Linked DNA regions of Homo sapiens. The protein of the gene in region 1 interacts with the protein of each later gene in a pairwise test. Each region holds a gene or a part of one and is shown on either strand. Other genes may lie near its edges. The genes, in order: LZTS1, NTAQ1, CARD9 and LMNB2.

What was found.
Region 2: the proteins of LZTS1 (region 1) and NTAQ1 interact in binary tests that used the Homo sapiens proteins (3 or more experiments, as listed by UniProt).
Region 3: the proteins of LZTS1 (region 1) and CARD9 interact in binary tests that used the Homo sapiens proteins (3 or more experiments, as listed by UniProt).
Region 4: the proteins of LZTS1 (region 1) and LMNB2 interact in binary tests that used the Homo sapiens proteins (3 or more experiments, as listed by UniProt).

What each region holds. Positions count from the first base shown.
Region 1 is NC_000008.11:20,300,955-20,308,526, forward strand, and holds the start of LZTS1 (leucine zipper putative tumor suppressor 1), read right to left. Parts: upstream 3,010-7,572; 5' UTR 2,786-3,009; intron 1-2,785. UniProt on the Homo sapiens protein: Involved in the regulation of cell growth. May stabilize the active CDC2-cyclin B1 complex and thereby contribute to the regulation of the cell cycle and the prevention of uncontrolled cell proliferation. May act as a tumor suppressor.
Region 2 is NC_000008.11:123,419,768-123,426,788, forward strand, and holds part of NTAQ1 (protein N-terminal glutamine amidohydrolase), read left to right. Parts: intron 1-7,021. UniProt on the Homo sapiens protein: Mediates the side-chain deamidation of N-terminal glutamine residues to glutamate, an important step in N-end rule pathway of protein degradation.
Region 3 is NC_000009.12:136,363,656-136,370,676, reverse strand, and holds the end of CARD9 (caspase recruitment domain-containing protein 9), read left to right. Parts: coding exon 1-155; intron 156-239; coding exon 240-383; intron 384-801; coding exon 802-927; intron 928-1,379; exon of another isoform or gene 1,380-2,848; coding exon 2,849-3,040; exon of another isoform or gene 3,041-3,053; intron 3,054-3,419; coding exon 3,420-3,461; intron 3,462-3,831; coding exon 3,832-3,877; intron 3,878-5,459; coding exon 5,460-5,536; intron 5,537-6,117; coding exon 6,118-6,194; intron 6,195-6,275; coding exon 6,276-6,375; 3' UTR 6,376-6,514; coding exon of another isoform or gene 6,515-6,552; 3' UTR 6,553-6,721; downstream 6,722-7,021. Other genes in the region: DNLZ (DNL-type zinc finger protein), read left to right, coding at 6,963-7,021. UniProt on the Homo sapiens protein: Adapter protein that plays a key role in innate immune response against fungi by forming signaling complexes downstream of C-type lectin receptors.
Region 4 is NC_000019.10:2,453,944-2,460,956, forward strand, and holds the start of LMNB2 (lamin-B2), read right to left. Parts: upstream 3,017-7,013; 5' UTR 2,991-3,016; coding exon 2,727-2,990; intron 1-2,726. UniProt on the Homo sapiens protein: Lamins are intermediate filament proteins that assemble into a filamentous meshwork, and which constitute the major components of the nuclear lamina, a fibrous layer on the nucleoplasmic side of the inner nuclear membrane.

The DNA.
Region 1 (7,572 bases):
ACTAAAAATATAAAAGATTAGCCAGGCGTGGTGGCAGGCGCCTATAGTCCCAGCTACTTGTGAGGGTGAGGCAGGAGAACTGCTTGAACCCAGGAGGTGGAGGTTGCGGTGAGCCAAGATCGCACCACTGCACTCCAGCCTGGGCGACAGAGCAAGACTCCGTCTCAAAAAAAAAAAAAAAAAAAAAAAAAGTGGGAGCCAGTTAAGTGGAGAAGGTAGAGAGACCAGGCAGGAATATTCCATGCAGAAGAAACAGTGTTTCTATGTTCAAAGGTAGCAGAATAACATGGACAGAGCCAGGGTCCAGAACCTTACTAAGCTGATCTCAAATCCCTGCCCCTCGGTTTTGTAGCCTGGCTAAATTACTTAACTCTCCTCATCTAATAATTATACATACCCCGCAGGGCTGCAGTGAAAATTAAATGAGATAATGAATAAAAAGTTCCAGGCACACAGTGGATTTAGTGGCTGGCATTAAGTGTTACGGTATTATCCATTACACTGGTCTATAAGGTGCTTACCCATAGGTCTGTCATCATTACATTATTCATCTTCCTAGCCTCGCTGCACAGCTCAGAGCCTTGCATTTGGTAGGCGCCCAATGAATATTTATGAAATGAACGTTGAATAAGCGCAAAGGCATATAAATAAGTTTTCAGGATTAGAAAGCCATTTATATACGTCTGGAGCCCATGTATAGCTTTGCTATACACGCTGACCCACGGCTTCTCAAAACTGAAAGGCACATCTTTCCCTCACACACTCCCAAAGCATTGGCTTTCCCCAGGGCACCCCACGCAGCAGCACTCCTTCTATGACAGCACCCCTGCCCCACATCGACCCAGGCACACACAGCTGGGGGCACCTCCTGCAGATACACAAATGCACAAGCTGAACTGCTGAGACAGGTTTACCTCGTGAAGCACACAGCCGCTGCTATAAATGTTAACTAACAACCATCTTCAGCACATCAAATGTCCCGCCCTCCCTTTTGCTTGCATATAGACACCCACAGAGATGCCCGTTCTTTTTCTACTAGTTTTCTTCTCTTCTTAAGCAGAGTGAGCGCCCCACACTCACATCCACCCAGCTGAGACCTCTTACTAGGACTCCCAGTTGCTCCATCCTATTAGCTGTGGGACCTTAGGGAAAGCCTTTCCCTTCTGACGCCTCCGTTTCTTCACTGGCAGGCACAGAGAGCCCACCGCACCAACCTGGTAGTTATGTTGTGAGGATAAAGGAGATAACGTATGAGATAACGTCTATGATGAGCAGAAAGAGCCTCCAAAGAAAAGCGCTGGATAAATACAAGGTGTAACGCCACGCCTGATTAGCCTGCATGCTCTCTGCCCACAGACTTCTACCCACAGACTATGTTCCACTCCACTCTTAAACACAAACACCTTTCCCGTCTGTACATGCTATCTCTAATACCCATATGCGCACACTCTTCGGGCACCTCCATTCTCCCTCTGGATGCCTGCAGAAAATTGTTTTTGAACTTAGAGAAAGCTCAGGTTGCAAACACCCTCTTGCCGGTACCCGCAGACTCTTCTCAGGGTCTTGGTGCAGGAACTGCCAAGCAGATAGCTCATCTCTTTGTGGCTGGGCTCCTGGGCTCCCAGCATTCCTATTAGGCTGCACTTCCAGCAGAGTGTGGGATCCTTATTAGGAGCAGCGCCTGCCCGGCATGGTCCAGAACTCAGTGCCTCCTCAGTACTTTCCCAGCGCCCGGGACCAGAGAGTAGAGGGGCTGATGGCAGCGGGACGGTGTGGAGGGAATAAGTGAGACAGGAAACACTTTAGGAGGCCAGATCCCTAAGCACTTCTTATTCCTGGGAAATTGAAGACTGCGAAGCTAACAAGTCTGGAGCACTTTCCCAGGCCTGACATACTCGTGGGCGAGCACAAGGCTCATTTGCTCCACAGTTCAAACCTTTCCACTTGGAGCACGAAAAAGAGACATCACCTGGCCCTTGGTGTCTCGGGGATGCCTGTTGCTGCCAAGCTGCGACCTCTGAAGCCCCTCCAGCCAGAGCAAAGCCTGTGGCAGGGTGGAGGGGTGAGGTCTGGCTGCCTAGGGTGGCGGTGGAAGAAGTGAAGGTAGTGTGGGGCTGTCTGTGTGTGCATGGTGCTTTGACTAAATTCCTGAATTGCACATCCAGGACCGACCCCAGGAAGCTGCAGCCCCAGGGAGCCACTTAGACACTTCGATTTACCACCTTCCTCTCTAACCACCTCCGCCCGTGTGACTTATTCCTTGAGGGAAACCTTTCAAATCTCTGGCTGCAACGCACCGGTGTCCTCCCCACCGGTGTGGACACAGCTCATCTGCAAAGTTCCAGGCGGCGAAGTTCAGCGGCCCGGACCGACCGCCGGACCCTCTTCCTGCGGCCCCTGCTCCTGCGGCCTCGCGTCCCCACCTCCCACTTCTTCACCTCCGACACCAGTGTCACCTAACACTGACGTCCCCGCCAGGATCAGCATCGGTGCTGGGAATAGACGAACCCCGTCTGCAGGAGACACGAAGACAAAGACAGGAGGACAGACGCACAGTCACCTCCTCTGGGCCGGGCCGGAGAAGCGGCGCCCACCCTGCAGAGGGGAGACCCTGACAGCTCCACGCGGAGACAAAGACACCTCGACAGCCACGGACACAGACAGACAAAGACCGACGGACGCGCGGACGCACGGACGGTCCGGCCCGGCGAGGGGAAAGCGGTTTCCCGCAGCCAGGGCAGCAGACCCTCCAGGGGCGAGGAGATCCCCGGCCACCGCACCTTACCTGCCCCCTGCGCCTCGGGCGCACTTGAGACTTTTTTTTTTTCCCAGTGTTTCCCGGTGTGTTCCCGTCTCTCTTTTTCCAGAGCTGCTGAGCGGGCCGGGCCGGTCCCACTGCGCGGGATGCAGCTCCCGGCTCCCACTCACTGGCCGAGGCGGGCAGAGAAACTTTCGGCCTCCCCGCCCGGCCGCTGCCAACCCGCCAGCTCCAGGCGCGCCGGCCTCTGCGCGGGTCCCGGAGCCGGGGCGGGGCGGGGCGGGGCGGGGCGGGGCGGGGCCGGCCCGGGGCGGGGCCAGAGCCGGCGCCGCTGATTGGCAGCGAGCTGCCGGCAGCCTGGTCTGTGCCGCTCGGCGGCCTTTGTTCCGGGCTGACAGCTGGGGCTGCTCGCGACCTCGCGGCTCCTTCGCGCCCGCGGCCTGCGCGGGGTCCCGGGTCCCGTCTCTCTGCTCTCACTTCCATCAGCCCCATTGGGCGACCCTGCCCCCTCAGTCTTCCTTTCTTGCCTGGCCCCCTTTCTCCGATTGTTCCTGTCTTGCTCTTGTCGCATCCTTTTTTCCCTTTCATTACCTGAAATTCTTACTCCAGTTTTGTTTAAAATCCATTCCTTCTCCCGTTCTGTGTATGTTCCCCTTTCTTCATTACCCCTTCCTCTTAATCGCCAGTTTATTTTTCTTAATACCGTCTCTCCCGCTCCCGACTCGCACTAAAGGGCGTGTGTTTTGTTCAAGGACTGGACTAGCACCCAAGTGAGGGGCATTGCGAACCACACCAGGATTACAGGCTAGAGTCCAGAGCACCGGGACTCCCACTCCCAAAACATGTCAAAAGCAAACTTTTCCAGCTCTGAGGGAGCTGAGTTTCAGGTGACAGCAGAGGCCTGTTTCAAGTTTATAGCTATTAGTCTCACCCAGTCCCCTTATAATACTATCATTTTCTCAACCACCCTCACTTTTAACTTCTAGCAACTGAGCCAGGAGAGGATTCAAGCTTACAAGGTTTTGTAGGACAAAGGGTCAGTTAACCGGAGTGCTAGGTGCAGCATGAGGCTTGGGGGCTTGAGGGTGCACTGAGGCTAATCCTCTAAAACCAGGCTTGGCGGGAAGATGGCAGCTCTGCCCAAGGAGTGTTAGCCTCATCTTGAAAGAAGCCTGTGTGTGTGTGTGTGTGTGTGTGTGTGTGTGTGTGTGTGTGTTGGGGGGTGGGGGATAGATGTAATGGATTAGGATTGACATAGCCGATCTGATTATAAATAGCATGGGGGCCGGACGCGGTGGCTCATGCCTGTAATCTCAGCACTTTGGGAGGCCGAGGTTGGTGGATCACTTGAGGTCAGGAGTTGAAGACCAGCCTGGCCAACATGGTGAAACCCCGTCTCTACTAAAAAAAAAAAAAAAAAAAAATACAAAAATTAGCTGGGTGTGGTGGCAGGAGCCTGTAATCCCAGCTACTTGGGAGGCTGAGGCTTGGGAATTGCTTGAGCCTGGAAGGCAGAGGTTGCAGTGAGCCAAGATAGTGCCACTGCACTCCAGCCTGGGTGACAGAGTGACACCGTGTCTCAAAATAAATAAATAAATAAATAAATACAAAAAAATTAAATAGAATTGTGGTGGCAGGGGGGACAGCTCAAAGGAAAACAAGCCATATGGTTTCTGCCACACCCCTGCTCAAAACCCTGTAGGGGAATCTCACTGCCTTCGGTTGTTGACCCTGAAGACTCTGACCTTCGAATCTAGGCTTCCTGAAAGATGGCACCGCGAGGGTTTAAGAACACAGACAGGCTTCGCTGCTTGTTATTTGAGCCATTACCTTCCCCTCCCTCTTTCTCAGTTTTTCTTTTTCTTTCTTTCTTTTTTTATTTGTGAAATGAGGTAACAAGTCCCAGTGTAAATTCCCTGAAGGCAGGAACTTGTTCTCTTTTATTGGTGGCTGAGGGACTTGGTCTGTTTTATTCATAGATGTATCCCCGACACCTAGAACTTGCCAGGCAACATAGTAGGCACTCAATATGTATTTGTTAAATGAATGAATTTCTCATGTATAGGTTTGTTCTGATGATTAAATGAAACCCACTGCCTTGCGGTAAGTACATACACGTGGCAGTAATTACAAGCAATACGACAATTTCTAAGTGTCAACCCCAAAGGCTACTCAGCCTTTTCCTGAACATCACCTCCTTTTCCCCACCTTTGTATAAACCTGCCCCTCAGTCTGAAAAGCTTTTCTCCTGCTCTTCTAACTCTACCTCTCAAAATCTGAGACAAAATATGGAACCCTTACTCACACCTTCTCTTATCGTCCAGGGCAAAATAATGTCTTCTTTTTCTAAAGCGCCATGCTTCTTTGTGTTGCATTTATTGACAGAGAACATGTATTCTTGCTTGCTGGTGAGAGTATCTCAAGAATTTTAGCTGAATGAGTTAATATCGATCAAACATTCCAGCGCTTTAAGGAAAGAGCAGACTCCTGGAAGGTAGATTAAGGTATGAGGTGGGCTCCAGACTTCAAACTCATTTTCACATCGTCGGAGGTGAGATTCCATGGAAGAGACAAAGGACTCTGGAAGCCCACTTTTTGTTCTGGCCCTACTGCTGACTATATGCTCTTGGACAAGCCATGTCCCTAATGAGGCCTCAGTTTCCTCATCTGGAAAGTGGATGGTTTGGAGTCCCTGATGAGACCTCAGTTTCCTATCTGGAAAGTGGATGGTTTGGAGTCCCTGATGAGGCCTCAGTTTCCTCATCTGGAAAGTGGATGGTTTGGATGAGAAGATACTCCTTAAGGACCCTCCTTCAGCACTGACACCTTTGTCAGTGACATTCTAGGTGAAAGCTGGGTATGATGTGCAGCCTTCCTGGAATGACTGAGTCAGGCAAAGGGTATGAGCAGTGTGTTGGTTTGTGTATGAGCGGTGGAAATGGGATACCCTATGGAACAACAGAAACACCCTGTGGAAGGGATACTTTAGAGACAGAATGCATAGAGAGTGGGGCTGGAAATGAGAAGGCAGAGTGGAGAAGGAGACCAGTGATGGACAGCACAGCATGTGTGTATGTATTATGGTTCCGTATGTGTGCATGAAAGCCTCAGGAATGTGGTCTCCAGCAGCACAAAGCCATAATTAGCTCCCTGATTCAGCAGTTGGGTATGGTAATGCAATGGCTGGGTGTGTCTACCCCCAACACCACCGGTAGGTTCTCAGTGTGGCTCCTTTTCTTCCTTGTCTAGTGAAGGGGCGCTGCCCTTCCTTAGTGTCTGGGTTCCCGAGAGGTGTCTTATGTGAAACTCTGCATCCCTCAGGCTCTCCCTTGCCTGAGTCGAGTCTAGAAAGCTGGGTCACAAAACATTTCTTGTAAAAATCTCCTACCCTCCTCCTGTATTCATCACCTGAGATACAGAGCATCATGCTTCATCTCTAGGACCTAAGATTGGCCACACTGGACCAGACCCATAGACCAGTTAAGCCAGCAGCTTGTTTGGATTACAGACAACTCTGCCTTCCTCAAGGTACTGTCACCTATCACAATTTAATTAATTCCCTGGCTTCTTGTTTGTCTGTTCATCTCTTCTGCAAGTTTCTTGTTCAAAGATCATGTCTGTCTTAGTCAACATTGAATCCACAGAACTCAGCACATTATTGGTACAAAGCAAGCGCTCAAAAAATACTAGAATGAGTGCTATGAGGGGAGGGAGGCGAGATGATGTTTCAGAGAGATAAATTGACTCAAATTCAGAAAATCCACGTGTATTCCTACTTCTTCCAATCTGCAGTCTTCTCACAACCCTTTGGAGGTTTAGTTTGCTATCAGTGAAAGAAGCCTAATAACATTTTCCCTATCTATCTTTTGGCAACAATACAAAATGAAAAGAATTAATAAAGTCAAAGGTGTTATGAAAAATACAAAATATCAAATAATTTTTTAATATTATTTCAAGTCTCAAAATCCAGGGCCTTGTGTTAAGAGAAAAGAAATGCTGACTATATTTAAGTGAGGTTGGATAATCTCCAAAAGCCGGTGAAAAAATATGAGCCTAGACAACTGAGCAAAGCTTTAAGGAATCAACTGAGGCCACTCCTGATTTCCCAGTGACCCCAGTAAAGGTCCAGGGAGAGCAGTTTTTCTGCAGTCAGAGCCAATGGTCCCATGACCTTAGAAGATGTCTTACCATCCCTGTCTTTTTCCAGGGTAGAAAACAGTTCCCGTGGAGTTGCTTTGAATGTGCAACTTTTATAACAAGAATTTTCATTCCTTACCTGTAGGTCTCTGACCACCTTGAATCTCTTATCTCTGGGCTTCAGGAGACTTGTCTCTGAATTGGAAGGACCATCTCTTTTTTCTTTAAATTTATTTATTTATTTTTTATTTTTTTTGAGACGGAGTCTCGCTCTGTCGCCCAGACTGGAGTGCAGTGGTGCCATCTCGGCTCACTGCAAGCTCCGCCTCCCGGGTTCATGCCATTCTCCTGCCTCAGCCTCCCGAGTAGCTGGGACTACAGGCGCCCACCACCACGCCCGGCTAATTTTTTGTATTTTTAGTAGAGACGGGGTTTCACTGTGTTAGTCAGGATGGTCTCGATCTCCTGACCTTGTGATCCGCCCACCTCGGCCTCCCAAAGTGCTGGGATTACAGGCGTGAGCCACCACGCCTGGCCAGGACCATCTCTCCTCTGTCTTCTCTGCATGTTATAAAGACAAATGAGATAAAATGAAAGTAGTTTTTCTACTTTCCTCGAAAGTGCTGCATGACTTCAAGAAATTGTTAATCATCATCATCACTAGCATTATGATTCAT
Region 2 (7,021 bases), about 100 Mb from region 1:
CTTTCTTCCCTCCCTCCCTCCCTCCTTCCTTCATTCCTTTCTTCCCTCCCTCCCTCTCTCCCTTTTTTGAGTCCCTTATGCTTTTGTTTAGAGTTTAAAGAACATTTCAGATATTATCCAATCACATATTTTGTTTGAGTTTTTTTCCCTTCCAACTTTTATTTTAGATTTGGGGTTACATGTGCAGGTTTGTTACATGGGTAAAGTGTATGTGTTGGGGGTTTGGTGTACAAATTATTTTGTCACCCAGATAGTGAGCATACTACCAGATAGATAGTTTTGATCCTCACCCTCCTGTCACCCTCTACCCTCAAGTAGGCCCCATGTCTACTGTTTCCTTTTTTGTGTCCATGTGTACTCAAGGTTTAGCTCCCACTTATACGCAAGAATATTCAGTGTTTGCTTTTCTGTCCCTGTGTTAATTCACTTGGGATATTGGCCTCCAGCTCCATCCATGTTGCTGCAAATGACATGATTTTTGTTCTTTGTCATTGCTGTGTAGTATTCCATGGTGGATGATATATACCACATTTTCTTGATCCAGTTCACCATTGATAGGTGCCTAGGTTGATTCTACATCTTTGCTATCATGAATAGTGCTGTGATGAACATATATGTGCATGTGTCTTAATAGTAGGATTTATATTCCTTTGGGTATATACACAGTAATGGGATTGCTAGGTCGCATCATAGTTCTGTTTCAAGTTCTTTGAAAAATCTCCAAACTGCTTTCCACAGTGGCTTAACTAATTTACATTCCCACCAGGAGTGTATAAGCATCCCCTTTTCTCCACCAACTTGCCAGCGTCTGTTATTTTTTGCCTTTTTTTTTTTTTTTTTTTGAGACAGGGTCTCACTCTGTCACCTAGGCTTACAGTGCAGTGGCATGATCATGACTCACTGCAACCTCAACTTCCTGGGCTTAAGTGATCCTCTCACCTCAGCTTCCTAAGTAGCTGGGAGTACAGGTGGGCATCACCACTTTTTTGACTTCTTAAATTATTTTTATTTGTTTATTTTTATTTATTTATTTATTTATTTAAGACGGATTCTTACTCTGTCACCAGGCTGGAGTGCAGTGGTGCAATCTAGGCTCGCTGCAACCTCCGCCTCCTGGGTTCAAGCGGTTCTGCTTCAGCCTCCTAAGTAGCTGGGACTACAGGCATGCACCACCATGCCCAGCTAATTTGTGTATTTTTAGTAGAGACGGGGTTTCACCATGTTGGCCAAGATTATCTTGATCTCTTGACCTCTTGGTCTGCCTGCCTCGGCCTCCCAAAGTGCTGGGATTATAGGCATGAGCTGCCGTACCCGGCCTATTTATTCATTTTTTTGAGACAGAATCTCACTCTGTCACCCAGGCTGGAGTGCAGTGGTGCAATCATGGCTCACTGCAGCCTCGACCTGGTGTCAATCAATTCTCCCACTTCAGTCTCCCGAGTAACTGGGGCTACAGGTGTGCACCACCATGCCCAGCTAATTTTTATATTTTTTGTAGTGTGGGGTTGTGCCATGTTGCCCAGGCTGGTCTTGAACTTTTGGGCTCAAGCAGTCTTCCTGCCTTGGCCTCCCGAACTGTTGGGATTACAGATGTGAGCTACTGCACCTGGCCTGACTTTAAGAATAGTCATTCTGACTGGAGTGAGATGGTATCTCATTGTGGTTTTGATTTGCGTTTCTCTAATGATTAGTGTTGTTGAGCATTTCTTCATATGCTTATTGGCCATGTGCATGTCTCTTTTTCCTTTTTTTTTTTTTTGAGATGGAGTCTTACTCTGTTGCCCAGGGTGGAGTGCAGTGGCTCGATCTCGGCTCACTGCAACCTCTGCCTCCCAGGTTCAAGTGATGCTCCCAGCTGAGCCTCCAGAGTAGCTGGGATTACAGGTGTGCACCACCATGCCCAGCTAAGTTTTGTATTTTTCTTTTCTTTTTTTTTTTTGAGACGGAGTCTTGCTCTGTTGCTCAGGCTGGAGTGCAGTGGCGTGATCTTGGCTCACTGCAAGCTCCGTCTCCTGGGTTCACACCATTCTCCTGCCTCAGCCTCCCGAGTAGCTGGGGCTGCAGGTGTCCACCACCACACCCGGCTAATTTTTTGTATTTTTTTTTAGTAGAGACAGGGTTTCACCGTGGTCTGGATCTCCTGACCTCGTGATCCGCCTGCCTCGGCCTCCCAAAGTGCTGGGATTACAGGCGTGAGCCACCGCGCCCAGCCTAAGTTTTGTATTTTTAATAGAGACAATGTTTCACCATGTTGGCCAGGCTGGTCTTGAACTCCTGACCTCAAGTGATCCACGCGCCTTGGCCTCCCAAAGTGCTGAGATTATAGATGTGAGCCACTGTGCCTATCTGCTTTTGAGAAGAAGTATCTGTTCATGTCCTTGGCCTATTTTTTAATGGGGTTGTTTTTTGCTTGTTTATTTAAGTTCCTTATAGATTCTGGATATTAGACTTTATCAGATGCATAGTTTGCAAATATTTTCTTGCATTCTGTAGGTAGTCTGTTTTTTGTTTTGGGTTTTTTTTTTTGAGACAGGGTCTCACTCTGTCACCCAGGCTGGAGTGCAGTGGCACAATTATAGCTCATTGCAGACTTGACCTCCCAGGCTCAAGTAATCCTCTCACGTCAGCCTCCCAAGCAACTGAAATTAGAGATGTGTGCCAGCATGCCTGGTTAATTTTTTTTACTTTTTGTGGAGACAGGGTCTCTCTATGTTGCCCAGGCTCATCTTGAACTCTTGGGCTCAAGTGATCTTCCTGCCTGGGTTTCCCAAAGTGCTGGGATTACAAGCACGAGCCTCACCATGCCTGGCTGTAGGTTGTCTATTTACTCCATTGATAGTTTTTTTTTTTTTTTTTGCTGTGCAGAGCTCTTTAGTTTAATTAGGTCTCACTTGTCAATTTTTGTTTTTGTTGCCGTTGCTTTTGGAGTCTTCATCATGAAATCTTTGCCAGGGCCTATGTCTGGAGTGGTATTTCCTAGGTTTTCTTCTAGGGTTTTATAGTTTTAGGTATTACATTTAAGTCTTTAATCCATCTTGAGTTGATTTTTGTATATGGTGAAAGGGAGGGGTCAAGTTTCAATCTTCTGCATATGGTTAGCCAGCTATCCCAGCATCATTTATTAAATAGGGAATCCTTTCCCCATTGCTTGTTATTGGACTTTGTTGAAGATCAGATGGTTGTAAATGTAAATATGCGGCTTTATTTCTGGGTTCTCTAACCTGTTCCATTGGTCCGTGTGTCTGTTTTTGTACCAGTACCATGCTGTTTTGGTTACTATAGCCTTCTAGTATAATTTGAAGTTGGGTAGTGTGACGCCTACAGCTTTGTTCTTTTTGCTTAGGATTGTTTTGGCTGTTTGGGCTCTTTTTTGGTGCATATGAGTTTTAGAATAGTTTCTTCTAATTCTTCCACAACTCGCTTGCTCTTCCTTCCTTTCCCTCCCTCCCTTCCTTCCTTCCCTCTCTCCCTCCTTCCCTCCCTCCTTCCCTCCTTTCTTTCTGTCTCTCTCTTTCCTTCCTTCTCTTCTTTTGTTTTCTCTTCTCTTCTTTTTTCTTTCTTTGTCTTTCTTTTCCTTCCTTTCCCTCCTTTCCTTCCTTTCCCTCCTTTTCCTCCCTTTCCCTCCTTTTCCTTCCTTTCCCTCCTTTTCCTTCTCTTCTGTTTCTCTTTTTCTTTCTTTCTTTCTTTTTCTTTCCGGAGGGTCTTGCTACATTGCCTAGGCTGGTTTCAAACTCCTGAGCTCAAGTTATCCTCCCACCTCAGCCGAGGCATTGGGATTACAGTTGTGAGCTACTGCACCCCACCTACAGGTATTTTTGTTTCAGCTGTGACTCCTTGTATTTCCGAGTATAAGATCATCTCCCCCTTTTTTTTAACATTGAAACTTTCATGGGATTCTCCTACATGATATTCGTTATGCTCTTGAAAAACAATTGCTGACTAAAAGGGACTAAAAAGTCAGTGACTTTTACGAAGTTTACATTTTTTTCTGTGTAACATTTACATATATTTCAAAAATAACAGTGTATGTTCAAGCCACATTATGTATTCAGCTTACCAGTGGTGCTTGTGGTATCTGTGGATTCATGAACTCTTTGTAGTTTTTATTATTATTATTATTATTTTTAATTTTTAGATGGAGTCTTGCTCTGTCACCCAGGCTGGAGGAGCAGTCGTGCAATCTTGGCTTATTACAACCTCTGCCTCTCGGGTTCAAGTGAGTCTTGTGCCTCAGCCTCCTGAGTAACTGGGATTATAGGTGCATGCTCCTACGCCCGGCTGATTTTGTGTTTTTATTTTTATGCGTTTTTTTTTTTTTTTTTTGAGATGAAGTCTCACTCTGTCACCCAGGCTGGAGTGCAGTGGTGCGATCTTGGCTCACTGCAACCTGTGCCTCCCGGGCTCAAGTGATTCTCATGCCTCAGCCTCCCAAGTAGCTGGGATTACAGGTTTGTGCCACCACGCCTAGCTAATTTTTGTATTTTTTTTTTTTTAAGACGAAGTCTTGCACTGTTGCCTGGGCTGGAGTGCAGTAGCACGATCTCAGCTTGCTGCAACCGCCGCCTCCCAGGTTCAAGCAATTCTCCTGCCTCAGCCTCCTGAGTAGCTGGGATTACAGGTGCCTGCCACCACACCCATCTAATTTTTTGTATTTTTAGTAGAGACGGGGTTTCACTATGTTGGCCAGGCTGGTCTTGAACGCCTGACCTCATGATCCACCCGCTTCGGCCTCCCAGAGTGCTGGGATTACAGGCGTGAGCTGCTGCGCCTGGCCATTAATTTTTGTATTTTTAATAGGGTTTCGTCATGTTGGCCAGGCTGGTCTTGAACTCCCAACCTCAGGTGATCCAAGGTCTTAAACTTCTGACCTCAGGTGATCCGCCTGCCTTGGCCTCCCAAAGTGCCTGGATTACAGGCATGAACCACCTCGCCTGGCCCCTTTGTATTAACTCTAAGCCCACCCTTAGAGGGGAATGAACAAAGAGAAACTACAACCTATACCTCTTCCCATATCCCTCCGAATTAATGACACCCTCTTCCTTTCTGCATGCATCTTTTATGGCCTTCTATGATGCTTGCCAGTTATGGATTTGTATGTCTCTGCTCATGGTCTGTAAGCTCTAATTTATCATCATATCCTCCAAGCACTTAGCACAGTATTTTGTACATTATAAGCTCTTGAAGGTATTTGCGGTAAACTCCCGAAAAACTTGTATAAGCCAGAGAGATAATTGTCTTCTTCAAACCTGGCCTTAGAACATTTAGATTAAGGAAATTTTATTGTGACGTAATATGACATATACCATATGTCATGTTGAAACAGTCAATAAAATTTTTTTTTTTAGAGGTTGTCTCTCTCTGTCGCCCAGGCTGGAGTGCAGTGACACAATCTTGGCTCACTGCAACCTCCGCCTCCTGGTTTCAAGCGATTCTCCTGCCTCAGCCTCCCGAGTAGCTGGGATTACAGGCATCAGCCACCACGCCCAGCTAATTTTTGTATTTTTAGTAGAGACAGAGTTTCACCATATTGGCCAGACTGGTCTCAAACTCCTGACCTCAGGTGATCCACGTGCCTCAGCCTCCCAAAGTGCTGGGATTACAGACGTAAGCCACCATGCCCGGCCCAGTCAGTAAATTTTTATTACTCTATAGTACATATCATATGAAGTAGTCAGTAGCAGTAGCAATCTTCCCACCCCCCCACTTTTTTTTTTTTTTAACCACAACCATCACTTTTCCCTTGTAGTTTCCTAGTTATTTTAGAGAAAAGGAAAACCATGGGAGAAAAACATGTCCAACTTCCGTATTTTAAGCCTAGTTTTATAGAGCATTTGAGACAGGCAAGGCAAAGATTGATGAACTGAAAGAGTGTCTACTTCTGTAAGATGGTGACCATCCTCAGGGCTGTTCATGCCTTGCTTCATTTTTAGGTAGCATGGCGTGGATGAAATTAGGCTTTGGGCCGGGCGTGGTGGCTCACACCTGTAATCCCAGTATTTTGGGAGGCCGAGGCAGGTGGATCACCTGAGGTCAGGAGTTCAAGACCAGCCATGGCCAACATGTGATGGCCAACATGTGAAACCCCATCTCTACTACAAATACAAAAATTAGCCAGAAGTGGTGGCATGCATCTGTAGTCCCAGCTACTTGGGAGGCTGAGGCAGGAGAATCGCTTGAATCCAGGAGGTGGAGGTTGTAGTGAGCTGAGATTGTGTCACTGCACTCCAGCCTGGGTGACAGAGCGAGACTCCGTCCCCGCTCCCCCCTGCAAAAAAGAAACTAGGCTTTGACAGACTGAGCCACATTCTGTGAACAGAGTGTTAGTGTACCTCATTTTGAGCAAAGGTGCGTGTATCTTACTAGAAAAAGATAGGAACCCAACAGCTGAGCTGTGAGTACTGCCCGAAGTGACTGGTTTCCTGTGCATGGAGGTGCAGCTCAGTTACTGCTCTGTTTGATGTACTACTGGGCATCACTTTACTTAGGTGGGTTCTGACTACTGCTTCAGATAGCCAAAGACCTGTCACGTAGAAGAGAGATTCATCTGGGGCAAAGGTATGGGAAGATTGATTTCAGTTCAGTATGAGAAAGAACTTTCTAAAAATCAGGCCTCTTGAGAAGGCCAGGCACAGTGGCTCATACCTGTAATCCCAGTACTTAGGAAGATTGAGGTGGGAAGATTGCTTGAGCTCAGCAGTTCAAGACCAGCCTGAGCAACATGGCAAGACCTTGTCTCCACACACACAAAAATAATTTTTAAAATTAGTTGGGTGTGGTGATGTGCATCTGTGGTCCCAGCTACTCAGGAGGCTGAGGCTGGGAGTTTGAGGCTGCAGTGAGCTGTGGTTGAGCCACTGCACTTCATTCAGCCTGGGCTATGGAGTGAGACCCTGTCTCTAAAAATAAGCATAGGCTGGGCACGGTGGCTCACTCTGTAATCCCAGCACTTTGGGAGGCTGAGGTAGGTGGATCACTTGAGATCAAGAGTTTGAGACCAGCCTGGCCAACATGGTGAAACACC
Region 3 (7,021 bases), on another chromosome or scaffold:
TGAAGGCCGAGGACGACTGCAAGGTGGAGCGCAAGCACACGCTGAAGCTCAGGCACGCCATGGAGCAGCGGCCCAGCCAGGAGCTGCTGTGGGAGCTGCAGCAGGAGAAGGCCCTGCTCCAGGCCCGGGTGCAGGAGCTGGAGGCCTCCGTCCAGGTGGGGCCGTAGGCAGGGCAGGTGCAGCCCAGGCAGGGCAGTGGGGGCCTTCCCAGCCAGGCCATTGCCTTTTGCCCCCTTCAGGAGGGGAAGCTGGACAGGAGCAGCCCCTACATCCAGGTACTGGAGGAGGACTGGCGGCAGGCGCTGCGGGACCACCAGGAGCAGGCCAACACCATCTTCTCCCTGCGCAAGGACCTCCGCCAGGGCGAGGCCCGACGCCTCCGGGTAGGAGGGCAGGCGGGGAGACATGGCCCCTGGGGTCCAAGCCAGGCTGGACGGGCTGAGCTCCGCCCACTCCGTGCCTGGAAGGTGGGGTGTGGAGACCCCAGTGCAGCGCCTCCACTCACCCACTCCTGGAGGCACAGTGGACGGTGCCCTCTCCTTGCCCGCCTGCCCCCCATGGCAAAGGCCAACCTCTGGGCTCATGGTGCCTGAGGCACAGCAGTGTCTGAGGCCTGCCGGAGGGCCCTGTCCTGCCGCGGTCTGGAAGTGCAGGGCTGGTAGGGGCCTGGGGACTCCTATGGCCTCCCCCGACATCCCAACTGGCCTGACCACATGCTTCTGAGCCCCTGCCCGGAGTATACCCCAAGGGCCAGAATGGGGGGCCTCAGGCCTGTGGGGGCTGAGCTGCCGCCCCCTGCAGTGCATGGAGGAGAAGGAGATGTTCGAGCTGCAGTGCCTGGCACTACGTAAGGACTCCAAGATGTACAAGGACCGCATCGAGGCCATCCTGCTGCAGATGGAGGAGGTCGCCATTGAGCGGGACCAGGTGGGCACTCGCAGGGGCAGGACAAAGCACCCCACTCGCGGGTGGGTGCACCAGGGCCACGGCCCTTGAGGGCAGTTGTCAGAGGATTTTTAATCTTTGTTATTTGTTTTTGAGATGGGGTCTTGCTATGTCACCCAGGGTGGCCTCAAACTACTGGCCTCAAGCAATCCTCCGGCCTCAGCCTCCCAAAGTGCTGGGATTGCAAGCTGAGCTGCCACACCTGGTCTGTTTTTTAAATGACAGAAGCAATACTTAACACTAAAAAAAAGTAAACGATGATGAAGTCAATACTTCCCCACCCCAGCCTACTGTCAGGGAAAACCGTGTTCAACCTTCCCGCTCCACCTTACAGACTTACCTGTCATCTATCCATGTATCCATCTGTCTATCATCTATCACCTATCTATCTATTTATATATTTGGTTTTGTTTTACAAAAATGGAAACATTCTGTCTTGTTTTACCAGTAGCTTTTTTTAATCTTAAAAAAAGCTTGGCTGGACGTGGTGTCTCTCGCCTGTCATCCCAGCACTTTGGGAGGCTGAGGCGGGCGGATCACTTGAGCCCAGGAGTTCCAGAGCAGCCTGGGCAACACGGTGAGATCCCTGCTCTACAAAAAAATGCAAAAATTGGCCTGGCGCGGTGGCTCACGCCTATAATCCCAGCACTCTAGGAGGGCGAGGCAGGCGGCTCACTTGAGGTCAGGAGTTCGAGACCAGCCTGGCCAGTATGGGGAAACCCCGTCTCTACTAAAAACACAAAAATTAGCCTGGTGTGGTTCCGGGCGCCTGTAATCCCAGCTACTCAGGAGGCTGAGGCAGGAGAATTGCTTGAACCCAGGAGGCAGAGGTTGCAGTGAGCTGAGATCACGCTACTGTACTCCAGCCTGGGTGACAGAGCGAGACTCCGTCTCAAAAAAAAAAAAAATTAACTGGTCGTGGTGGCGCATGCCTGTGGTCCCAGCTATTTAGGAGGCTGAGGCTGCAGCAAGTCACCATTGCGCTATTGCACTCCAGCCTGGGCCACGGGAGTGAGGCCTGCAAGGCCTCCAGTGCTACGTGCTGTGAGCCGGATGGAGCGTCGCGGGGCAGGGCTGTGTCTGCTTCCCATGCCCCGTCCCAAGTCCCATCCTGGAGGTTGTTTCCAATGGACACCATTGCTGCTTCGGCTAAATGCTGGATGGCACTTTGTCCACATCAGGAGCCTTAAAACGAGACCCCTGGGGCTACAAAGGAAGCCCCGGCCCCCATGAGAGCAGCCCAGGCTCAGAGCTCCTGTCTCAGCCCCACCTCAGCCTCACTCGCGCCTGGCCCACGCCAAGGCAGGGGAAAAGGGCAGATCCAGCTGTGCCCCCATGGGGGTTGGTGTGGCTCCCAGGGCGGGGGCTCCCACGGGACTTCCCGGGAGCGCGTTGGCCAGGGATTAGGGAAGCTGCCAGCCGTTGCTCCAGTCTGGGCAGAAGGGGTTAGGTGAGGGCCTCCCAGCCTCGGCTGCAGGGGTGGTCAAGCCGTCGTGTTTGCACATTCGCTCCTGCGTCTCAGTGTCCGCAGTGAGGACAGGGGTGGTAAAGAGTGCTGCGGTCACGAAGGACGCTTAGCTATGGACAGTCAGGGTCTCCATATCAAGCCGCGTCCAAAATTTATCAAATGTGCACGTGTGGGGGTACATAGCACACGCTGTGTCCACCGGGGGTGCAGGCTTGGGAGGAGACAGAAGGGCAGCAGGGACAACTGTCACATTTACAATCCCCCACGTGCTGACTTCGTGTCCGCAGAGCACACAAATGGAGGGGCTGTGACCAGCCTCCGCGCCCAGCGGCTTGACGTCCTCCGGAGCCTCTGCTTGGAGTTGGGCGGCCGGGCCGAGGGCCCAGGGCAAGCTTGGGGCCCTCACTGAGGGTCGGCCTTGTGCTGTCCCGTCAGGCCATAGCCACGCGGGAGGAGCTGCACGCACAGCACGCCCGGGGCCTGCAGGAGAAGGACGCGCTGCGCAAGCAGGTGCGGGAGCTGGGCGAGAAGGCGGATGAGCTGCAGCTGCAGGTGTTCCAGTGTGAGGCGCAGCTACTGGCCGTGGAGGGCAGGCTCAGGCGGCAGCAGCTGGAGACGCTCGTCCTGGTGGGCCTGGGGCCTGCGGCAGGGAGGGGAGCCGGCGCGTGGGATGCAGGGCCAGGGGAGCACGGAGCCTCAGCCCCGGCCTTCCCGACCCAACCCTTCTCTGTGACGGGCCCCAACCTAACCAAACCCCTCCTGGCAGTGGGGTGAGGGCACACGAGCAGTTCAGGGTCCCAGCAGGAAGTGGGGCTGCAGGGCCGGGGTGGGTCCTGGGCCTGGCCATCAGGCAGCCTAGCAGGTTGTTCTGGGCATGGAGGGGGCCTGGTGTGGCTGAGGGCATGCCCAGGGCTCCCTGGAGGATCCCGCTCTGTGCCCTGCCCACCCTGTGCCTGGGGAGCCCTCTGCCCTCACAGCCCACCCACCCCATTTTCTATGACCACAGAGCTCCGACCTGGAAGATGGCTCACCCAGGAGGTCCCAGGAGGTGAGTGAGACCCCAGCCAGCACGAGGCTGGCCTTCCTTCACCTGGGGTCCTGGCTGAGCTGCCACCAGGCATAGCCCCACACTGCCCGTCACATGGCCCTGCTCGGTGGGCTGGGCTGGGTGGAGGAAGAGCAGGTGGCCAAATGCTAAGGCCTCTGATGGCTCAAGGGGTAAGGTAAGGCACGGACAGTGCCCACCTCCTGGCCGCCCAATGTCCGTCTGCTGGGCACCTGAGTCTCTGAGAAGCTCTGTGCAGGGGGTGACGGCAATGGCTGCACCCAGCTGAGGGCCAAGGGCTGGGGTGGGCAGTGTGGCCGGGTCCAGTCCTTGGCGAAGTGGCCTAATGGGACATCTTGACTCTCTTTGGAAGCTCTCACTCCCCCAGGACCTGGAGGACACCCAGCTCTCAGACAAAGGTGAGGTGGGGACAGCAGTACACCCAGAGGCCTCCCAGCTTCCCCAAGTGAGGCCCATCTTCAGCACAGGCAGCCCGTGCCGCAATGCCTGTGTCAACCCCCACAACCCCCACTCCACAGACAGGGAAACTGGGGCTGGGGATAAGTAAAATGGTCAAGGTCACCTAGAGAACAAACTACAGAGCCCAGCTGGAACCCAGGGCCCCAGCTAGTGGGACAAGTGTCCCCTGGGGTGGAGAGTGTGGGGGTCTGGGCAGCCCCCATGGGCTGCAGAGGTGAGCAGGCCCACCGTCCTGAGAGTGTGGGGCCCCTCTGGGCAGCCCCCACGGGGTGCAGAGGTGAGCAGGCCCAGTCCTGGCTGCTCCAAGCTTCCTCCTGGACAGAGGGAGGTGGTAACGAGCGAACGACCAGGTGCATGAAGCTAGAAGATGGGGCGAGATGGGGCCCCACGTGGCTTGAGGGAAAGGGCTGAATGCAGGGGTGGCCAAGGGCCTGCTGTGTCCCGGTGCAGTGGGGGTAAGGCAGTGGCAGGGGCTTCTAGCGGGCAGGGCAGGCCCCCTCTGCCTGTCTGGGGGAAGGACTGGGTGGCTAGCTGGGAGCAGCTCCCGAGTGTCCAGGAGTGGGCAGTGGTGATGAGGTAGGTGTTTGCACTGAAGGTGCTGTCAGGTAGGGGTTGGGGAGGGCCCAGCAGAGGGGTCCTGGGAGGCTGCACCGGAGTTGGACAAGCTTCCTGAGTACCAGGCCGTGGCCTCCAAGCAGAGGCGGAAGGGGAAGGAGGAGCCGCAGACGGGGAAGTGAAGACCAGCGCCTTTGGCTGCAGCTCAGAACACTTGAACATGGGGATGCCAAGCCCCCATGTAGGCACAGAGGCGAGCAGGACCCAGGAGTCCGGCTCAGGCACTGCCCCCATCCCCCTGGGTGGCTGTGGCAGGAGCAGGGGCAGGTGTGAAGGTTGGAGGGTGAGCAGGGGAGGGGCTGGCTCTAAGGGGCTGCCAATGGCCAGGACAGCCCTGGCCTGGCCCTCACCGCAGTGGGGCTGAGACTGGACGTGCGTGGTTTCTGCCCAAGGGTCCTGATCCCTGGTCTGCCCAGGTCCTGGCGGTTTCTGAGGGGGTCCAGCCGCCTGAAGGTTCTCTCCCAATTGCTGCAGTACCCCTGCCCCCACTTCAGGAGGACCCAGACAGCCACTGTAGCTGTCCCCAACTCTCTCCCCAGGGCCGCCATGCCCACAGATGCTTTGGAGTGATGGGGGACGGTGCTGCTCAGGCCCAGGGTTTAAGTTCCCCCGAGGTCTGGGAGGCGTTCCTCCCTGGCAGGCAGCCAGCTCGGGGGAGGGATGGTCACTGGCGGGAGCGTTGGGCCTGGGCTGGCATCTGGCGGCCTCCTGGAGCAATGAACAGGCAAGCGAGGCCATAAGGCCTCAGTCTCATCTACAGAAAGCAGAGTCTACACTGGACCCATGTGGGGATCCCACCAGGCCTTGGAAGACAGCCCCACTGCAATGCCGGGGAGGGGTGGGGCAGCCGTGCTATACGTGGCCCAGCAGATGGGCAGGTCCCACAGGCACGACTCTCCTTTCCAGGCTGCCTTGCCGGCGGGGGGAGCCCGAAACAGCCCTTTGCAGCTCTGCACCAGGAGCAGGTTTTGCGGAACCCCCATGTAAGGCTTCCCCGGGGTGGGGTCCTCCCAGCCGTGGGCCTCAGGGTGACCGATCACAGGGAGAGTGGCTCCCTGCCCTGGGCACCCCCTGCGGTGGCCCCGACGACAGCTGAGGAGTGACCACAAGGTCTCTGCCCACAGTGCTCGGGGTGCGGTGTCTGGGCTGCGAAGTGGATCCCCCTTTCTTGGGCACTGCAGCAGCTTGGGGGGCTTTTTGGACGTGGATGTGCCTGGTCCTGGTTTTCCGAGGGCCTTTACAGTGGATGAGGAGGTGAACACAGGAGTCCTGAGAGCAAGCACCACCTCGGGCTTTGTTGTAGAAACAATGGCCCGGACCCCAGGCTGGAGCCGTGGCTTGGCCTCCTGGGTGTGTCTTGGCATCTGAAATGCAGGCTACCCACACCGGCTCACCTCCAGGGGTACAGGCAGGTCCCACAGGGAGAGCTTGGCGCTGAGCTGAGGCTGTCTGGGCTCCTCGCCTCCCAACCAGTCTGCAGTTACAGGGGCCAGTGGGGGGCGGGTGAGAAGGACGGGTTCCCTCAGGGGAGCCGGCCGGAGCCCGAGCCTTCCCCCTTCTCCAGGACGCAGGCCTGAGCAGCGGGGAGCCGCCCGAGAAGGAGCGGCGGCGCCTCAAAGAGAGTTTTGAGAACTACCGCAGGTAGGCGGGCGGCCCCCAGGCTTCTCCAAAACGGGCTGGGGAGCGGCAGCCGGGTCGCGCCTGAGACACCTGTCTTCACAGGAAGCGCGCCCTCAGGAAGATGCAGAAAGGATGGCGGCAGGGGGAGGAGGACCGGGAGAACACCACGGGCAGCGACAACACCGACACTGAGGGCTCCTAGCCGCAGCAGCGCAGGCCCCGACCAGGGCACACCCACCGGCCCGGCCTCCTGCCACCCGGGGGTGCCGACGCCCTGGGGCGCAGACTTCCCCGAGCCGTCGCTGACTTGGCCTGGAACGAGGAATCTGGTGCCCTGAAAGGCCCAGCCGGACTGCCGGGCATTGGGGCCGTTTGTTAAGCGGCACTCATTTTGCGGAGGCCATGCGGGTGCTCACCACCCCCATGCACACGCCATCTGTGTAACTTCAGGATCTGTTCTGTTTCACCATGTAACACACAATACATGCATGCATTGTATTAGTGTTAGAAAACACAGCTGCGTAAATAAACAGCACGGGTGACCCGCATTCCCGCTCGGACACTCGCGCGCAGCCCCGCGGCCGTCCCTCCTCGCTGCGGCCCGCGGTGTCCTCGGGGTGCGAGCTGCACGTGGACGCAGGGCCCCCTCAGGCCGCCAGGGGGCGGCATAGCGCAGCGCGCCCCCGACCCGGAAGACGGAAGCCCAAGAACGCCGCTTCCGCCCGGCGCCCACTTCCAAGATGGCGGCGGGGCGGGGCCGGGGCAGGGCGGACGGAGCCGGCGAGCGGGATGCTGCGGACTGCGCTGCGCGGCGCGCCGAGGTTGCTGAGTCGCGTGCAGCCCCGGGC
Region 4 (7,013 bases), on another chromosome or scaffold:
GCAAGATGGAGGCTCCAAGAGACACAGGGGCCTGCCCAAAGCCACACTAATTGAAAAGCAGGGGACTGGCCAGGCACGGCGGCTCACACCTGTAATCCCAGTACTTTGGGAGGCCGAGGCAGGCAGATCACCTGAGGCCAGGAGTTTGAGACCAGCCTGACCAACAAGGCCAAACTCTGTCTCTACTAAAAATACAAAAATGAGCCGGGCATGGTGGTGAACACCTGTAATCCCAGCTACTCGGGAGACGGGGGCAGGAGAATCACTTGAACCCGGGAGGCAGAGGGTGCGGGGAGCTAAGATCGCGCCACTGCACTCCAGCCTGGACGACGGAGCGAGACTCTATCTCAAAAAAAAAAAAAAAAAAAAAGAAAGAAAAGCAGGGGATCCCACCAAGCACTGATCTTCCTTCTACCTCCCTGAAGGCACCAGCTACATTCTTTCAGGTTCCCTGTCCCCAGGGCACTGTGAAAACAACCCACAGGGAGCTACTGAACAAAAGTTAACCTGCTGTGGCCCCACACACAAGTAAGAGGTGGGTATTATAATTACACCCATTCCAAAGGCGAGGGCACTGAGACCCAGAGAGGGTAAGCGACTAGCCCAAGGTCACACAGAGGGTAAGTGGCTCCCAGAAATGACCCGACCCCCTCAACAAGCAGCTCTTCTCCCAGAAGCCCACCACGTCCTCTGATCTCCAGATGGGCGAGTGGGGACTGGGCGCTGCAAATCCCGACTTCGGCACCCAGCTCTCCCAACAGGACACTGGGGCCTAGGGACCCCAGGACCCCAACCCATGGCAGGAATCAAGTGGGTGCTCCTGCCTGCCCCCCGTTCTGGAGTCCTGTCCTTGGATTGGGCATGGCCAGTGGGAGGGACAAAGAGCCTCCCCAGGGTTAGGTTGGGGGGCAGGACAGATTGCACCCAGACCCCAAGACACCCCGACCTCATGTCCCCTTGGTGGGCAGACTTTCCCGCCTCTTCTCCTTCAGTCTGCACTGAAGCCTCGGGGCCCATTCAGAACCTCAACACTTTCCACCGGACCCAAGATCCCAACTCTCACCCTTCCTTCATATTCTCTTGGGGGCAGAACCTGCCAGACCACCGCTGACACCAGGGCACAAATAAGGGACTCCCAAATTTCCCGTGGGACCCCAAGGTATCAGAACCTCTCCCTCGGCCCCCTACCCACCCTGGGCCTGGTGAGAGATGAGGGGCCTAATTCCCACCCCAGTCACCAATCTCTTCTGGATTCATCAGGGAACTCGCTAAAGCTCCAGGGAGAACTGAGACCACGTGACTCACCCCAGAGACTCCAGGGAGACCCCCCACACACCCCATCTTGGGCCTCCTCAGAGGGCCTGGGCCCCCCAGTCTCCTTGGAGCCCAGAGACCACCCCCATTCCACCCCAGATACCCCAATACCCAGCTTCATCCCCAGAGACTCCCACTCACACCCCCTCAGTTGGGGGGGGTCCGCCAAGTCTCCTTGGAATCCTCTGAGGGACGAGGCATATGGGGGGCTGCAGCCCAATACTCAGGGAGCCCCCAAATCCCCAGGACCTCTCTTTGGTGGGGAGCCCTAGTCTGTAACCCCCATGGCCCCAAAATGCACCTCTCACGGAAGGGTCCCCAGAGCTAGCTGGAGGCCCCTCTGCAGCCCTCACTCAGGACACGGAAGATCTCCTGGGACCCCCTCCATAGGTGGGGCATTCCTGGTCTGCACTTTTCACTCAGTGCCCTAGAAACCCCCTGGAGGTCCCCAAGAGAATGGGCCACTCCGGTCTGCACCCCTCCCAAGGGGTCCCCCAAGATCTCGGAAACTGCGGTGGGCAGGGCCTGCCCAGGTGGCACCCCTCACTCAGGGTCTCCCCCTGGAGATCCCCGAGGCCAGGCTGACCCCACCCCTGCTCAGGGTCCCCCGTGATCGCGTACTCCGCGGTGGGCTGGGCCTGGCCGAGCTGCACCCCTCACTCAGGGACCCCTTGAAACCCCCTGGAGACCCCCAAGCCGGGACCCTTCCCGGTCTGCACCCCTGCCCAGGGTCCCCGCGATCGCGCACCCCGCGGTGGCCAGGACCTGCACCCTTCATCCAGGAGCCCCCCGCAAACCCCCTGGAGACCCCAAGCCGGGAGTCGTTCAGAGTCCCCCGCGATCGCGCGCCCCGTGGTGGGCGGGGCCTGGCCGAGTAGCACCTTTCACTCAGGGACTCTCCGAAACGCGGCGGAGATCCCCGAGGCCGGACTGTCCCCGTCTGCATCCCAGCTCAGGGTTCCCCGCGACTGGGAGCCCCGCAGTGGGCTGGGCCTAGCCGAGCAGCACCCCTCACTCAGAAGCCCCCAAACCTCCTGGAGACCCCCGAGCCGGAGCCTGTCCCCGTCTGCACCCCCGCCCAGGGTCCCCGCGATCACGCACCCCGCGGTGGGCGGGGCCTGGCCGAACTGCACCGCTCACTCAGGGGCCCCTCGAAACCCCCTGGAGACCCTCGAGACCCGGGCCCGTCCCTGTCTGCACCCAGGGTCCCAGCGATTGCCCACCCCGCGGTGGGAGGGACCTGGCCGAGCTGCACCCCTCACTCAGGGGCCCCCCGAAACCCCGCGGAAACCCCCGAAGCCGGGGCCCGTCCCCGTCTGCACCCCCGCCCAGGGTCCCCGCGATCGCGCGCCCCGCGGTGGGCGGGGCCTGCCGGCTGCACCCCCGCCCGGCCCCTAAGCCCCGGCGCCCACCTCGCGCGTGGTCACCTCCTCCTTCTCTGAGATCTTGAGCAGGAGCCGGTCGTTCTCCAGCTCCAGCGCGCGGACGCGGTCGATGTAGTGCGCCAGGCGGTCGTTGAGCTCGCGCAGCTCCTCCTTCTCCTGCAGCCGCGACAGGCGCGTGGGCGACAGCGGCGTGGCGGGCCCGCCCGCGCGGCCGGGCAGCGGCGTGGCCATGGTGGCGGCGGCTCGCGGCCTGCGCTGCTCCCGACGGCGGCCCGGGCTCGGCGGGCTCATTCAATCCGCGCCGCCGGCTGCAAGATGGCGCCGCGCCGCGCCGCGCCCGCCGCCCGCCGCGGCGGGGCAGCCTGGGACTGGTAGTCCGACCGCCGGGCGCGCGCGGGGCACGCCGGAAGTTGAAGTCTCCGTCCAGCTCTCGCTTCGCAGAGGCGCTGACTCCAGAGACAGACTTCCTGGCTGCAAACTCCCAGCTCCGCCACGAGGAAACAGCGTTGGGTTGCTTTCTAGTACCTGTTTCCCCACTTAGAGAACCTCAAAACGTGTTCAAAGAACCAGACACAAAAGGCCATATAGGGCCGGGCGTGGTGGCTCACGCCTGTAATCCCAGCACTTTGGGAGGCCAAGGCCGGTGGATCACTTGAGAAAAGAATTTCGAGATCAGCCTGGACCACATAGGGAGACCCCCCCACACCATCTCTACTACGGAGGCGCGCGCCGGTAATCCCAGCTACTTGGGAGGCTGAGGCAGGAGAATCTCTTGAACTTGGGACGTGGAGGTTGCAGTAAGCCAAGATCGCGGCACTGCACTCCAGCCTGGGCAACAATGAGAAACTTTGTCTCAAAAAAAAAAAAAAAAAAAAAAAAAAGCCATATAGTGTACAATGCCACTGATATAAAATGTCCAGAAGAGGCTGTCAAGGAGTATGAATTTCAACAAATTGAGTTTAATGATCTCATTGGCTCTTATTAGCAATTCATGAATTGGATAGCATTCAATCTATTAAATAGGCACTCCAATGAGCTGAGCAGAGAGGATGGGCATTCTGCATTACAGGCAGAAAAGGCTGAAGAAAGGAGAAATAAGAATTAAAATAAAAGCCAGGCCAGGTACAGTGGTTTGCTCACGCCTGTAATGCCAGCACTTTGGGAGGCGGAGGTGGGAGGATAGCCTGAGCCCAGGAGTTTGAGACTGGCCTGGGCAACATAGCAAGACCCCATTTCTAAAAATAAAAATAAAAAAATTAGCCAGGTGCAGTGGCTCACACCTGTATTCCCAGCACTTTAGGAGGCCAAGCCGGGCAGATCATGAGGTCAGGAGTTCGAGACCAGCCTGACCAATATGGTGAAATCCCGTCTCTACTAAAAATACAAAAATTAGCCAGGCATGGTGGCACATGCCTGTAGTCTCAGCTACTCGGGAAGCTGAGGCAGGAGAATTGCTTTAACCCGGGAGGCGGAGGTTGCAGGGAGCCAAGATTGAACCACTGCACTCCAGCCTAGGCAACAGAGTAAGACTCCACCTCAAAAAAAAAAAAAAAAAAAAATTAGCTGGGCGCCTATAGTCCTAGGTATTTGGGAGGCTAAGGTGGCAGGATTGTTTGAGCAAGAGAGGTCAAGGTTGCAGTGAGCCCTGATCACATCACTGCATTCCAGCCTGGGTGACAGAGTGAGAGTTTGTCTCAAAAAAAGTAAAAATAAAAATACGAAATAAAAACCAATTGGTTGTTTCAAAGTTACTTTTTTCATAGGGTCTGTTTTAACCCCCTCTATTTTGAGGGTACTTCCCTATCAGGTTAACCGGTCCCCTTTGGCTTGGTGGCTGTGAATGTTTTTTTTTGAAAACCTGCACCCTTTAAAGTTCAGTTTGAGGCCAGGTACGGGTGGCTCTCACCTGTAATCTCAGCACTTTGGGAGGCTGAGATGGGGAGATCGCTTAAGCCTAGGAGTTTGAGAACATCCTGGGCAACATAGTGAGACTCTGTCTCCAAAAAAAAAAATTTTTTTTTTTTGGAGACAGAGTCTTGCTCTTGTCACCCAGGCTGGAGTGCAATGGCATGATCTCGGCTCACTGCAACCTCCACCTCCTGGGTTCAAGCAATTCTCTGCCTCCCGAGTAGCTGGGATTACAGGCACCCGCCACCATGCCCAGCTAATGTTTGTATTTTTAGTAGAGACCTGGTTTCACCATCTTGGCCAGGCTGGTCCTGAACTCCTGACCTCGTGATCCACCCACCTCGACCTCCCAAAGTGCTGCAGTTACAGGCGTGAGCCACGGCACCCAGCCAAAAAAATTTTTAATAATTAGCCACATGTGCTGGCACACACCTGTAGTCCCAGCTCCTCGGGAGGCTGAGGCAGGAGAATGGCTTGCATCCAGGAGTTCAAGTCTGCAGTCAGCCATGATTGCGCCACTGCACTCCAGTGTGGGCAACGGAGCGAGACCCTATTTCAAAAAATAAAAAAAATAAAAGATCAGTTTGACTACGTGGTACCTGGCACTAGTGACTCCATTCCAATTTTATCTGGTCTGCTGGGGACTAGAGACCCCATTGTCTAAAACAATGGCCTGCCATACATTTTATTTAACAAGGCCAGGCGCGGTGGCTCATGCCTGTAATCTCAGCACTTTGGGAGGCCGAGGCGGGCAGACCACCTGAGGCCAGGAGTTCGAGACCAGCCTGGCCAAAATGGCAAAAACCTGTCTCTCCAAAAAGTACAAAAATTAGCCAGGCGTGGTGGTGTACGCCTGTAATCCCAGCTACTTGGGAGGCTGAGGCACGAGAATCGCTTGAACCCAGGAGGCAAAGGTTGCAGTGAGCTGAGATCACACCACTGCACTCCAGCCTGGGCGACAGAGCAAGACTCCGTCTCCAAAAAAAACCCCCCAAAATTGTAATTTAACAAGACAACCTATACAGCAGTGTTTCTCCAACTCTGCACTAGATATTTGGGGCCAGATCACTCTCTGTTGCAGGGGGTTGGAGTCAGGAGGTGCTGTCCATTACAGGGTATTGAGCAGCATCCTCGGTCTCCACCCACTCCATGCCACGAGCATCCCAGCCTCATACTTATTTTTTATTTTATTTTTATTTTTAGTTGAGGCGGGTCTCGCTCTGTGGCCCAGGCTGCAGTGCAGTGGCGTGATCTCGGCTCATTGCAACCTCCGCCTCCCGGGTTCCAGCGATTCTCCTGCCTCACTCTCCCGAGTAGCTGGGATTACAGGCACTTGCCACCATGCCCGGCTAAGTTTCTGTATTTTTAGTAGAGACAGGGTTTTGCCATGTTGGCCAGGCTGGTCTTGAACTCCTGACCTCAAATGATCTGCCCGCCTTGGCCTCCCACGTTGCTGGGATTACAGGCGTCAGCCACCGCGTCCGACCCCGGCCCCCTAGTTATGAAAACCAAGTATGTCTCCAGAGATTGCCACATGTCACCAGAGGGGCAAAATTGCCCCAATTGGAGAATAACTTCCTCCTGACCTAGAACTGGCCCGGTCTTCCTTCTGCCTGGGGAACTCCTCCTTTTTACACATCTCACCTTGGGGGTTTGGCTCAGCCTCTGCCAGAGACCCCAGTAAATCACACACTGAGAATCTAATGCCCTTTCCAGCCTACTGAGGACACCAGGGGAAAGAGCCCACCTGCCTCCAACAGCCAACATTCACTCGCTATTATTCCCCTCTTACCAGATAGACCCCCAGCCTTAGAACCCAGGCAGGAAGCCTGGCATGGTGGCTCACACCTGCAATCCCAGCCACTCTGGGAGGCTGAGACAAGAAAATGGCTTGAGCCCAGGAGTTTGAGACCAGCCTGGGCAACATAGCAAGACCCAACTCTACAATACTCTACAGTTTTTTTTTTTTTTTTTTTTTTGGAGACAGAGTCTTTCTGTCCCCCAGGCTGGAGTGCAGTGGCCCAATCTTGGCTCACTGCAACCTCCTCCTCCTGGGTTCAAGAGATTCTCCTGCCTCAGCCTCCTGAGTAGCTGGGATGACAGGCATGCGCCACCATGCCTGGCTAATTTTTGTATTTTTGTAGAGTTTCCTCATGTTGGCCAGGCTGGTCTTGAACTCTGGACCTCAAGTGATCTGCTCACCTCGGTTTCGCAAAGTGCTGGGATTACAGGTGTGAGCCACTGCACCCGGCCCCTACAAAAAAATTTTTTTAATTAGTTGGTCGTGGTGGCGTGCATCTGTATCCCCAGCTACTTGGGAGGCCGAGTCAAGGAGATGGCTTAAGCCCAGGAGGTGGAGGCTGCAGTGAGCTATGATTGCACCATTTCACTCCAGCCTGGATGACA